Homo sapiens: one gene and its partners. The protein of the gene in region 2 purifies or fractionates together with the protein of the main gene of each other region. This does not show direct contact. Each region holds a gene or a part of one and is shown on either strand. Other genes may lie near its edges.

The links.
Region 1: the proteins of DNAJC11 (region 2) and MTCH2 purify together in Homo sapiens (affinity purification with mass spectrometry; 2 studies listed by BioGRID and IntAct, with this or other methods). This does not show direct contact.
Region 3: the proteins of DNAJC11 (region 2) and RNF214 purify together in Homo sapiens (affinity purification with mass spectrometry; 2 studies listed by BioGRID and IntAct, with this or other methods). This does not show direct contact.

What each region holds. Positions count from the first base shown.
Region 1 is NC_000011.10:47,635,821-47,639,570, reverse strand, and holds part of MTCH2 (mitochondrial carrier homolog 2), read left to right. Parts: intron 1-519; coding exon 520-604; intron 605-765; coding exon 766-872; intron 873-3,750. UniProt on the Homo sapiens protein: Protein insertase that mediates insertion of transmembrane proteins into the mitochondrial outer membrane. Catalyzes insertion of proteins with alpha-helical transmembrane regions, such as signal-anchored, tail-anchored and multi-pass membrane proteins.
Region 2 is NC_000001.11:6,700,063-6,703,812, reverse strand, and holds the start of DNAJC11 (dnaJ homolog subfamily C member 11), read left to right. Parts: upstream 1-1,996; 5' UTR 1,997-2,012; coding exon 2,013-2,084; intron 2,085-3,750.
Region 3 is NC_000011.10:117,235,605-117,239,354, forward strand, and holds part of RNF214 (RING finger protein 214), read left to right. Parts: intron 1-2,996; coding exon 2,997-3,507; intron 3,508-3,750.

The DNA of each region.
Region 1 (3,750 bases), on a different chromosome or scaffold from region 2:
CCACTGCGCCCGACCGACAGCCTGTTCTTCTAACATGAAGTTAGCTTGTAATTCTTTCCTAAGTGAATTATCCAGCTATATCTGCATTTGCCTTTTGAGTGTTTTGTCTGGGTTGCCAAATATGCAGCTGATGCTGGCGTAATGGATGTCTTCTAGTTTTGTTCAAATACAAAATGTGCCTTAGATTTTATTTAGAAGGTATTTTTGAGCCCCCTTAGTAAACTGTAGCTTTCCTAACGCAAAAGTTCCCTTCTTTCAGTTTGATATTAGCCTATTTCAGCTACATGGTTTACGTCATAGAATTTGAACCAAAATGAAACTTGGAGTTTATTGAACTCAGTATTACCAACAGAAGAAAAACCTACAAGAATGATGCTTCATCATTGCCTTGGAAAACCTATGCTGCATTTTTACTTGTGTTTAAAAATAACCCAAATTGTGTTCTTTATTCAAGACCTTGCAAGCAAGACATTTCTGGAAATATTGCTTTAATATTGATATATTCCATTGTTTTTAAAGGTGGGATATGAGCCTCTTCCTCCAACAATAGGACGAAATATTTTTGGGCGGCAAGTGTGTCAGCTTCCTGGTCTCTTTAGTTATGGTAAGTGCCTTTGATTTATTTGGGTTTGCATGACGTTGAGGACTGTGATAGGCAGGAGTTGTTATTGAAAGAAAATATATAGAAAGCTTGTTTCTTTGAAATTGTAGTATATCCATTTCTCTTGACCAGAACTTGACAACATCTCTGACTTGTGTTCTTAGCTCAGCACATTGCCAGTATCGATGGGAGGCGCGGGTTGTTCACAGGCTTAACTCCAAGACTGTGTTCGGGAGTCCTTGGAACTGTGGTCCATGGTAAAGTTTTACAGGTAAGAGGAAAATTAAATCAATCTTCCCATAGATGTTGCTTACCTGTTATGCATAGTTTGTTCTAAATATCAAGAGCAATTTAAAAGATACATTTATAACCCTGTCCTTTCTTCCTCTTGAAAAACACTTTCTTTTTTTTTTTTTTTTTTTTTGAGATGGAGTCTCACTCTGTCGCCCAGGCTGGAGTGTAGTGGCGCGATCTGGGCTCACTGCAAACTCCGCCTGCCGGGTTCACGTCATTCTCCTGCCTCAGCCTGAGTAGCTAGGACTACAGGCTCCCGCCACTGCGCCCGGCTAATTTTTTGTATTTTTAGTAGAGACAGGGTTTCACCGTGTTCTCAATATCCTGACCTCGTGATCCGCCCGCCTCGGCCTCCCAAAGTGCTGGGATTACAAGCATGAGCCACCGCGCCCGGCGGGACTCAGTGAAATTGTTGCTGTTACTTCCATGAAATTTACATATGGAAAGGCAGTTGTCATCTAGCCAAAGAGGTTTGTGTATAGACTTAGAGAAAAAGAGAAAGTGCTGCTTGAGACTAAGTTACTTTATGTAACTGTAAAGTAAGACAAACTTGAGGTAACCAGGTACCCTGAATATGTTCCAAATGTAGTCCAGTGAAATATTACAGGGTTGGTACTACACTTAGCATCCAAAGCTGCTTGTACAGTCAAGAAGAAGGATCTATGCAGGGCTGAGAAAATTATTAACCTTTACAAGAAATAATTTTGTAAACTGAACAAGAATTAAAATGAAATTCAGGAAATGTAGAAGACAGGTTAGATAATTATATCGATGGAGTAAATAACAAAGTATAGAAACAAGTGAAAATTTAGAGACCTGAAGCTATTAGAATTAATTCTAGCCAAGGACCTGGAATTTGGCCAAAATACATTACTTTGCTTTATCTTCACATTTGTTCTCTTGCCCGTGATTTTTTTAAACACAATTCTTTTTACAAGAGAAAATGTTGTCTATTTTTGAAATCTGATATGGCTAGAAAATAATAAAACTGACATTAAAAAATAAGAAAACAATAAAACTGGTGGTTACACAAGAAGGAGCTCTCAATTGATAATTTTATTTTCACCTAGCTCACATTCTATTTCCAAAATACGCCACAAAAAATTCCTCTTGCAAGAATTTTTCTCTGGGCTCTGGCAGTATTCATGATCTCTTCTCTAGAAGAGAAAAAAAAAACCTCTTGCTTGTTTTAGAAACCATCAGATACAAAGGAGAAAGTGAGGCGATTTCAGCTCTTCAGTCTTAATATCAATTCTCTGTCCTTTTATGCAGGGAAGAAAAGAGTCTTGCCCTAATTTGGTATTGGTCATGCGTTTTCCATGAGAAAAGTGGGAACCCTGGGCTATGTTTTTACTGACTTATTTTCTGTTAAAACTGAAAGTTCTTGGCCAGGCGCAGTGGCTCATGCCTGTAATCCCAGCACTTTGGGAGGCTGAGGCGGGTGGATCAGCCGAGGTCAGCAGTTTGAGACCAGCCTGGCCAACATGGTGAAACACTGTCTCTACTAAAAATACAGATGTTAGCCAGGCGTGGTGGTGGGCGCATGTAATCCCAGCTACTCAGGAGGCTGAGGCAGGAGAATCGCTTGAATCTGGGAGGTAGAGGTTGTAGTGAGCTGAGATTGAACCATTGCACTCCAGCAGTGAGCCGAGATTGCACCATTGCACTCCAGCTGGGTGACAAGAGTGAAACTCCATCTAAAAAAAAAAAAAAACAGAGTTCTTGAATTTTCTTTTTTGTTGTTGTTCTTATTTTGTAATTATTTCTTTAAATTTATTATTATTTTTTTAGAGACAAAGTCTCACTATGTTGCCCAGTCTGGTCTTGAATTCCTGGGCTCAAGCAGTCCTCCCTCTTCGGCCTTCCAAAGTGTTGGGATTACAGGCGTGAGTCACTGCGCATGTTCCCTTTTCGTTTTTTGGGTTTTTTTGTTGTTTTTTTTTGAGACAGAGTTTCACTCTTGTTGCCCAGGCTGGAGTGCAATGGCATGGTCTCGGCTCACTGCAGCTTCCACCTACCGGGTTCAAGCAATTCTCCTGCCCCAGCTTCCCACGTAGCTGGGATTACAGGCACCTACCACCACGCCCAGCTAATTTTTGTATTTTTAGTAGAGAGGGGGTTTCGCCATGTCAGCCAGGCTGTTCTCAAACTCCTGACGTCAGGTGATCCGCCTGCCTCAGCCACGCAAAGTGCTGGGATTACAGGCGTGAGGCACCATGCCCGGCCCCTTTTCTTTTTTTCTGAGATGGAGTCTTGCTCTGTTGCCCAGGCTGGAGTGCAGTGATGTGATCTCAGCTCACTGCAGTCTTTACCCCCCGGGTTCAAGCAATTCTCCTGTCTCAGCTTCCCAAGTAGCTGGGATTACAGGCGCCCGCCACCAAGCCCAGCTAATTTTTGTACTTTTAGTAGAGATGGAGTTTCACCACGTAGGCCAGGCTGGTCTCAAATTCCTAACCTCAGGTGATCCACCTGCCTTGGCCTCCCAAAGTGCTGAGATTATAGGCGTGAGCTACCGCACCCAGCCTTCCCTTTTCTTTTTTTTTTTCTTGAGACGGACTCTTGCTCTGTCACCTGGGCTGCAGTGCAGTGGCGTGATCTTGGCTCACTGCAACCTCTGCCTCCTGGGTTCAAGTGATTCTCCTGCCCCAGCCTCCCTAAGAGCTGGGATTAAAAGCGTGCGCCCCAATGCTCCGCTAATTTTTGTATTTTTAGTAGAGATGGGGTTTCACCATGTTGGCCAGGCTAGACTTGAACTCCTGACCTCAGGTGATCTGCCCACCTCGGCCTCCTAAAGTGCTGGGATTACAGGCATGAGCAACCACACCTGTCCCCTTTTCTTTTTTCAAAGAAGAGTT
Region 2 (3,750 bases):
CCACATTGTTGTTTTTACCCCCAGTCTCTCTGTATGAAATTCTTGGCCGGGTGCGGTGGCTCACGCCTGTAATCCCAGCACTTTGGGAGGCCGAGGCAGGTGGATCACGAGGTCAGGAGTTCGAGACCAGCCTGGCCAATATGGTGAAACCCCGTCTCTACTAAAAATACAAAAATTAGCTGGGCGTGATGGCGCACGCCTGTAGTCCCAGCTGCTTGGGAGGCTGAGGCAGGAGAATCGCTTGAACCCGGGAGGCGGAGGTTGCAGTGAGCCAAGATCGTGGCACTGCACTCCAGCCTGGGCGACCGAGTGAGACTCTGTCTCAAACAAAAAAAAAAAAAAAGAAAGAAATTCTTAAAGACTGTCAAATGTCAGCATGCAGTTTGGCCCTAACCACAGCTCTTTTCTCTGCAAAGGAGAAAAAGGCAAAGCCCATAACATTGCTGGAAGAGCTGATGGACCATGGAAGCTGTTGTGGAGAAGCTTCACACAACTAAAGAAATAGCCCTTAATTTACAACCTGGGCTGACAGTTTGTTTCAGGCTGACTCAACCCACCCGAACAATCTGTCTCAGCACACCGAAGTGTCTCATGCCAAAAGATCCTAAGAGGGCTGGGCAACTTGGAAGGGATGAGACACAGGCCCAGATGGTGCACATCTGGCCAAAAATTAGAAAGAGAAAGAAATCAGCCTCTCAAATCCACAGACAGGTGTTCGGGGCTTCCCAGGAGACCTGCTTATGAAGGGCAACGGGGATGGCTATGGACTGGTGGTTAGTGAAGGAACAACAAAGGTTTCTGAGACTTGCGCAGGTCAGCGGGAACCAAACAGGTGGCAAGAGTGGGCTGCTGTCCACCTTCCCTTGACAATGGCGTCATTTCGAAGACCTTTAAATTATTTAGATTGTTGTAACCAAGACATCTTTAATAATGCACCAAACAGCAGGCACCAGGTTGAAATCAATTAGACTCCACCGATAAATTATAAGGGAGAAATTTACAGGAGAATGGCTCTGGGGTAGGGACTGCAGGTACACATGCCTGCCAGAGACAATTATATCAGGAACCAAATAGTTATTGCTTTGTCATTTAAGCAGCAGAAAAGATGGCCAGGTGCTCCTAAATTAGAGCAATAACAAATAACTAAAATGAGGAGGCCTGTTCTGGGCAGGAAGGCTTCTGGGTGGCCAAGAGAAAAGACAATGGAGGTAGGAACAAATGTCATTTGGGGGATATCTAGGATCCGGATGCACCCTGCACTGGGGGCACCTCGCGCTTCTTCCAGGAGTTTGGGGCCAGTGGGGTAACAGGTGGTATCACAGGGGTTTGTCTCCCAGAGGATGACAATCTCCTGGAGGTGACTTCAAAGTTTCCCTTTCTAGGCAGGACGCGGTGGCTCATGCCTGTAATCCCAGCACTTTGGGAGGCCGAGGATCTCCTGAGTTCAGGAGCCTCAGACCAGCCTGGCCAACATGGTGAAACCGTGTCTCTACCAAAAATACAAAAAAATTAACTGGGCGTGGTGGCGCGCGCCTGGAGTCCCAGCTACTCGGGAGGCTGAGGCAGGAGAATCGCTTGAACCCGGGAGGTGGAGGCTTCAGTGAGCCGGGATTGCGCCACTGCACACACACCAGGCTGGGCGACAGAGTATGACTCCGTCTCAAAAAAAAAAAAAAAAAGCAAAGTTTCCCTTTCTAGTACAGGAAAAGCCCTAGGGAGTCCTGGCTGGATCTCAGGCCCCCGAGGACGCAGCCACGCCGCGTGCCACGCGTCCATTGGGAGCACGAAGAGACACCCGCGTGGTCACCCCGCCAGGGCTGCCTAGGCGCCGCGTCCCGCCCTAGGCCGCGCGGGGGCGCAAAGCGCAGGCGCACTCCCGCCGGGCGCGGACGGCTCCGGGCCGCCAGGGGCCGCTGTGGCGCAGCCGGGCTGGCCCGCGCTGTCCCTGACGCGGATCACTGGCCCCTCTTGAGCACGGCCTTGCCGGTTTGGCGGGGTGAAAGGTTGCGAAGATGGCGACGGCCTTGAGCGAGGAGGAGCTGGACAATGAAGACTATTACTCGTTGCTGAACGTGCGCAGGGAGGTGAGGCCAGCGGCTGGACGCTCTGGGGGCTGAGGCCGAGCCCGGTCGTTCGGGAGGGCCGGGCTGGCGGTGGCCGCCCCACCCCCGCCACGGGAGGCTCGGGTCCGTCGGGGAGGCCGCGTGACCCCGGCGACGTGCACGCCAGCCGCCCGATGGAGGCGTCCCCACCGCCCAGACCCTCCCGCCGGGGGTTCCGGGGCCAGCCTCCGCCCCAGCTCCTGAAGGCCAGTGCGCCGCGTGCACTGTGTCCGGGTAGGGCCAGAGGCCCCCGCACGCTCAAGAGGAAACGGGGGCCCCGAGGAGGCCACCGTAGTGGGGTTAGCAGTCCTCCGAGACCCCGTCTCGCGCTCAGCCCACATACTCGTCCTGGCTGAGGGGCTGTGTCATCGCCCGCCGCCAGCAGGATGGCGAACTGAGTCTCACCCACCAAGGTCAAGGCCACTAGGGAACGTCCTTAGGGCTTTTTCCGGTTCCCGAGTCTTTCGTGGGGACGCTCTGCCTCTGAAGTGGGTCCAGCCTCAGAGGCATGCGTCTCATGCCCTCTTTCATTCCCCTGGACCCGATGTCCAGAAATTGCAGGCAGAGCCTCCGGGACACAGACCCTCGGCTCGGAGGCTGCAGATTAGGAAGAAGCCCTAGGCCAGAAAAGTGGTGCCCTAACAACAGCTTCAACATTCACACCAAGCACTTGTACCCTGTCTCCTCAACGAATAAAAGATAACATGAGAGAGTCTCACATAGCCTGGCAGTAGTAGGGCCCCACTACACTCCTTTGTTCTTGACTAGTCTGGAGTTGAGATAGGTGTGAAGGGCGAGAAGGCTTCCAGGGTCAGGTCATGAGGTGGATCAGTTTCTTTAAGCCGATGGGTCCAGACTTTTCAGCCCTGCCAGAGAATTCCTAATTCCATCTCTCAGGTTTTCCAGTGGTAATGAAAGCTAGCCAAGTTTGGCTATGCTAACCAAAGCGGGTTCAGTGTGTGTTGTCAGTAAATATTAGTCTATGTGATGTTAATAATACAAACTTATCTTGTGTGGGACCACTATGCTGAATGAACTTTGTACTGTTATCTCATTTAATTCTGAGGATAGCTCTTAAGGTAAGTATTATGATAGCCCTTGATTTACACTTGAGGAAACCAAGGCATAGAGAGATTAAGTAGTGTGTCTAAAGTCACACTACTAGAAAGTGCAAGAGCCTGAACTCAACCCAGGCAGTCTGACTCTGGAGCCCAGCTTGTGAGCTCCATGCTAGTCTGTCACCTTACCTTACCAGTCCTTGGACTACAAAGCTGCTAGTTCTGGTACTGTATCCTTGAGTGTCACGCGCGTCCGTGTGAAGAGACCACCAAACAGGCTTTGTGTGAGCAATAAACCTTTTTAATCACCTGGGTGCGTATGGGCTGAGTCCGAAAAGAGAGTCAGCAAAGGGTGGTGGGATTATCATTAGTTCTTATAGGTTTGGGATAGGCGGTGGAGTTAGGAGCAATTTTTTGTGGGCAGGGGGTGGATCTCACAAAGTACATTCTCAAGAGTGGGGAGAATATTACAAAGTACCTTCTTAAGGGCGGAATATCACAAAGTACATTATCACAAGGGCGGGGAGCGTGTATTGTCATAAGGCCAATTGACCAGTTAGGGTGGGGCAGGAGTAAATCACCATGGTGGA
Region 3 (3,750 bases), on a different chromosome or scaffold from region 2:
TCCTGGATTCCCTTACCTCAGCCTCCCAAGTAGCTAGGATTACAGCCGCCCAGCACCACGCCTGGCTAATTTTTGTATTTGAGTAGAAACGGGGTTTTGCCACGTTGGCCAGACTGGGTATTTTACTTTTCAGTGATTTATTTTTATATTTTAAAAAATGGACACGATAATTGTACGTATTCATGGGGGTACATAGTGATGTTGTGGTGTATGTGATGTATAGTGATCAGATCAGGGTAATTAGCATGTCCATCATCACAAACGTTTATCCTTTTGAATATTTTCAGTCCATGGTTGGTTGAGTCCATGAATGTGGACCACATTCTACATAAAGAGGCTGACTGTGTATTCTTCCTCAACTCTGTTTTTTTTTTGAGAGAGACTCTTGCCCTGTCCCCCAGACTGGAGTGCAGTGGTGCGATCTTGGCTCACTGCGACCTCTGCCTCCCGGGTTCAAGTGATTCTCCTGCCTCAGCCTCCCTAGTAGCTGGGATTATAGGCACCTGCTTGGTAGCCCGGCTAATTTTTGTATTTTTAGTGGAGACCGGGTTTCACCATGTTGACCAGACTGGTCTTGAACTCCTGACCTCAAGTGATCTGTCCGTCTTGGCCTCCCAAAGTGCTGGAATTACAGGGATGAGCCACTGCACCTAGCTCCGTCAATTTTTTTGTTTTTTTTTTGTTCTTGAGATGGCATCTTGCTCCGTCACCCAGGCTGGAGTGCAGTGGCGCGATTTCCGCTCACTGCAACCTCTGCCTCCCGAGTTCAAGCGATTCTCCTGCCTAAGCCTCCTGAGTAGCTGGGACAACAGGCGCCCGCCACCACACCCGGCTAATTTTTTGTATTTTAGTAGAGGCAGAGTTTCACCATGTTGTCCAGGATGGTCTCGATCTTCCGACCTTGTGATCCGCCCGCCTCAGCCTCCCAAAGTGTTGGGATTACAGGCATGAGCCACCGCACCTGGCCGTCCCTCAACTCTTTTCCAGTGTACCTGGGTCCCCTAATACAGTAGCTAACACTTAACTACAGTTCCATACGTGGTAACACATTTAATCTTCACAACAGTCCCAGGAGGTAGTGATAATATTATTCGCATTTACCGGTGAGGAAACTGAGACACAGAGAGGTTAGTAATTTGCCCAAGGTTTCCAAGCTATGTTGGAGTCAGAGTTTTGATAAATAAAATCAACTTCATACACTAGTAATAATGGCAGCTAAGGTTTATTGAATGTTTACTATGTGCCAGGCACTGTACTGAGTACTTTATGTGCATTATCTCATGTAATCCTCACAACAGTCTTGTTAGGTGGATAGTATTATTTCTGTTTTACAAATGAGGTAACTTGCCGAGAGTCAAACAGCTTGTAAATGGTGGGCGGAGTCAGGATTCAAACTCAGGTACTGTATATGCCTGAATTTTTAATTAAGCACCCGCTCACAGTTAACTCCCAGCAGGAAGGAATCAGCTTCGAGTGTTTTTATTAATATTATTGAGACAGGGTCTCCATCTGTCATCCAGGCTGGAGTACAGTGGTGCGATCATGGCCTACTGCAGCCTCCACCTCCTGGGCTTAAGCAGTCCTCTCACTTCAGCCTCCCAAGTAACTGAAGCTACAGGTGCACGCCACTACACTTGGCTAATTTTTAAATTTTTATGTAGAGAGAGGGTCTTGCTATGTTTCCCAGGCTAGTCTTGAACTCCTGACCTCAAATGATCCTCCTGCCTTGACCTCCCAAAGTGTTGGGATTACAGGCATGAGCCATTGCTCCCCAGCGAGATATTCTTTCAGTTGTTTTATTTTGAACTAGTACGACTGAGGAAACAAAGACGCATCAACTTGAATCCCCATTGCTAGTTGGGTATGGTTAAGAGTGTCAGTTATAGAATTAGTTTAAAAAAAGAGGGTGGGGTCAAAGAAATTAAACATAGGCGTAATTCCTGGGTGAAAGATGTGCAATTGTGAATGTTGGATGTCATTGTAAATATGTTTTAAAGTCCCCTTTAAAAAGCAGTACCTCACTTCAGCCTGGGTGACAAAGTGAAACCCTGTCTCAAAAAATAAATAAATAAATAAAAAATAAAAGCAATACCTTGAATGGCTGTGACAAGTGACAGAATATCCTAATGTTAAGCATATGTATACTTACTGTGTGGGATAAAATTTCTATTGACAGCTTCAATTTTGGATTCAAAATTGTACTTTAGACAACTTAAAGTGTAGGTTCTATACTCTGGAAAACTGTTGAAGAACCTAAAAAGTGGTTCTGGTCAAAGATCTGTATAATGAGTTTGAATGAAAATTATTCCTGTGAAAGGTGAGAGAGGAATAAAAACAATACTTCTAAGTTAATATTTGATTATAATATTATGTATAACTAAATTAATACATGTAACTAAATTAAATATTCTAACTAGTATTAGGCTAATTCATCGGTATCCCCAAAAGTTATTAAAATTGGCACTCAAAAATTATTTGGATCTTCAGAATCATTTATGTTTGGCCATTTACTGTAGAACCCAGGTTTTTGGCCAGCTCACGCCTATAATTCCAACACTTTGGGAGGCTGAGGCAGGCAGATGGATCCCTTGAGTACAGGAGTTCGAGACCAGCCTGGGCAACATGGCAAAACCGTGCAAAAAATACAAAAAATTAGCTGGGCGTAGTGGCATGTGCCTGTAGTCCTAGTTACTCACAAGTCTGAGGTGGAGGATTGCTTGAGCCAAGGATGTTGAGACTGTAGTGAGCCTTGATGGCGGCACTGCACTCTAGCTTGGGTGACAGAGTTTAGAACCTCTCTAAAAACAAAACCAAAAACAAAAAACTAGGTCTTAACCACCAGGCTATACTACCTGCATACAGGATAGAAATCATTGGATTGAAACTAAGTTCTTTCATTATGATAGTCGGGAGGGTTTACGTAGTCTAGTTTTGTTCTTCTAGTAGTTAGGTTGAAAGTATTATATACTTTTCTTTTTATCTTGTGTGTTTGATAGCACCAAAGACTCTGCACAGAAGCAGAAGAACTCGCCTCTGTTGAGTGTAAGTAGCCAAACAATAACCAAGGAGAATAACAGAAATGTCCATTTGGAGCACTCAGAGCAGAATCCTGGTTCATCAGCAGGTGACACCTCAGCAGCGCACCAGGTGGTTTTAGGAGAAAACTTGATAGCCACAGCCCTTTGTCTTTCTGGCAGTGGGTCTCAGTCTGATTTGAAGGATGTGGCCAGCACAGCAGGAGAGGAGGGGGACACAAGCCTTCGGGAGAGCCTCCATCCAGTCACTCGGTCTCTTAAGGCAGGGTGCCATACTAAGCAGCTTGCCTCCAGGAATTGCTCTGAAGAGAAATCCCCACAAACCTCCATCCTAAAGGAAGGTAACAGGGACACAAGCTTGGATTTCCGACCTGTAGTGTCTCCAGCAAATGGGGTTGAAGGAGTCCGAGTGGATCAGGATGATGATCAAGATAGCTCTTCCCTGAAGCTTTCTCAGAACATTGCTGTACAGGTCAAGTGTCAAGTTTCTACTACTAAAATGTAATTGGGGGGTGGTGGGGTTCAGGGTGGGAGATATTTCTTCATATTTGGTGGAGAACTTGCTGGCTTGTTTTGTTTTTTGTTTTTTTTGCTAGCAACCATCATACTACTCTCATACAGTGCCATACAATGACTTCATTCTGATGTTCAGTAAATAAGAAAGCCAGTAGCCATTGTCTAATCTTATGGCAAGTAGGAACTTTATGACCTACGT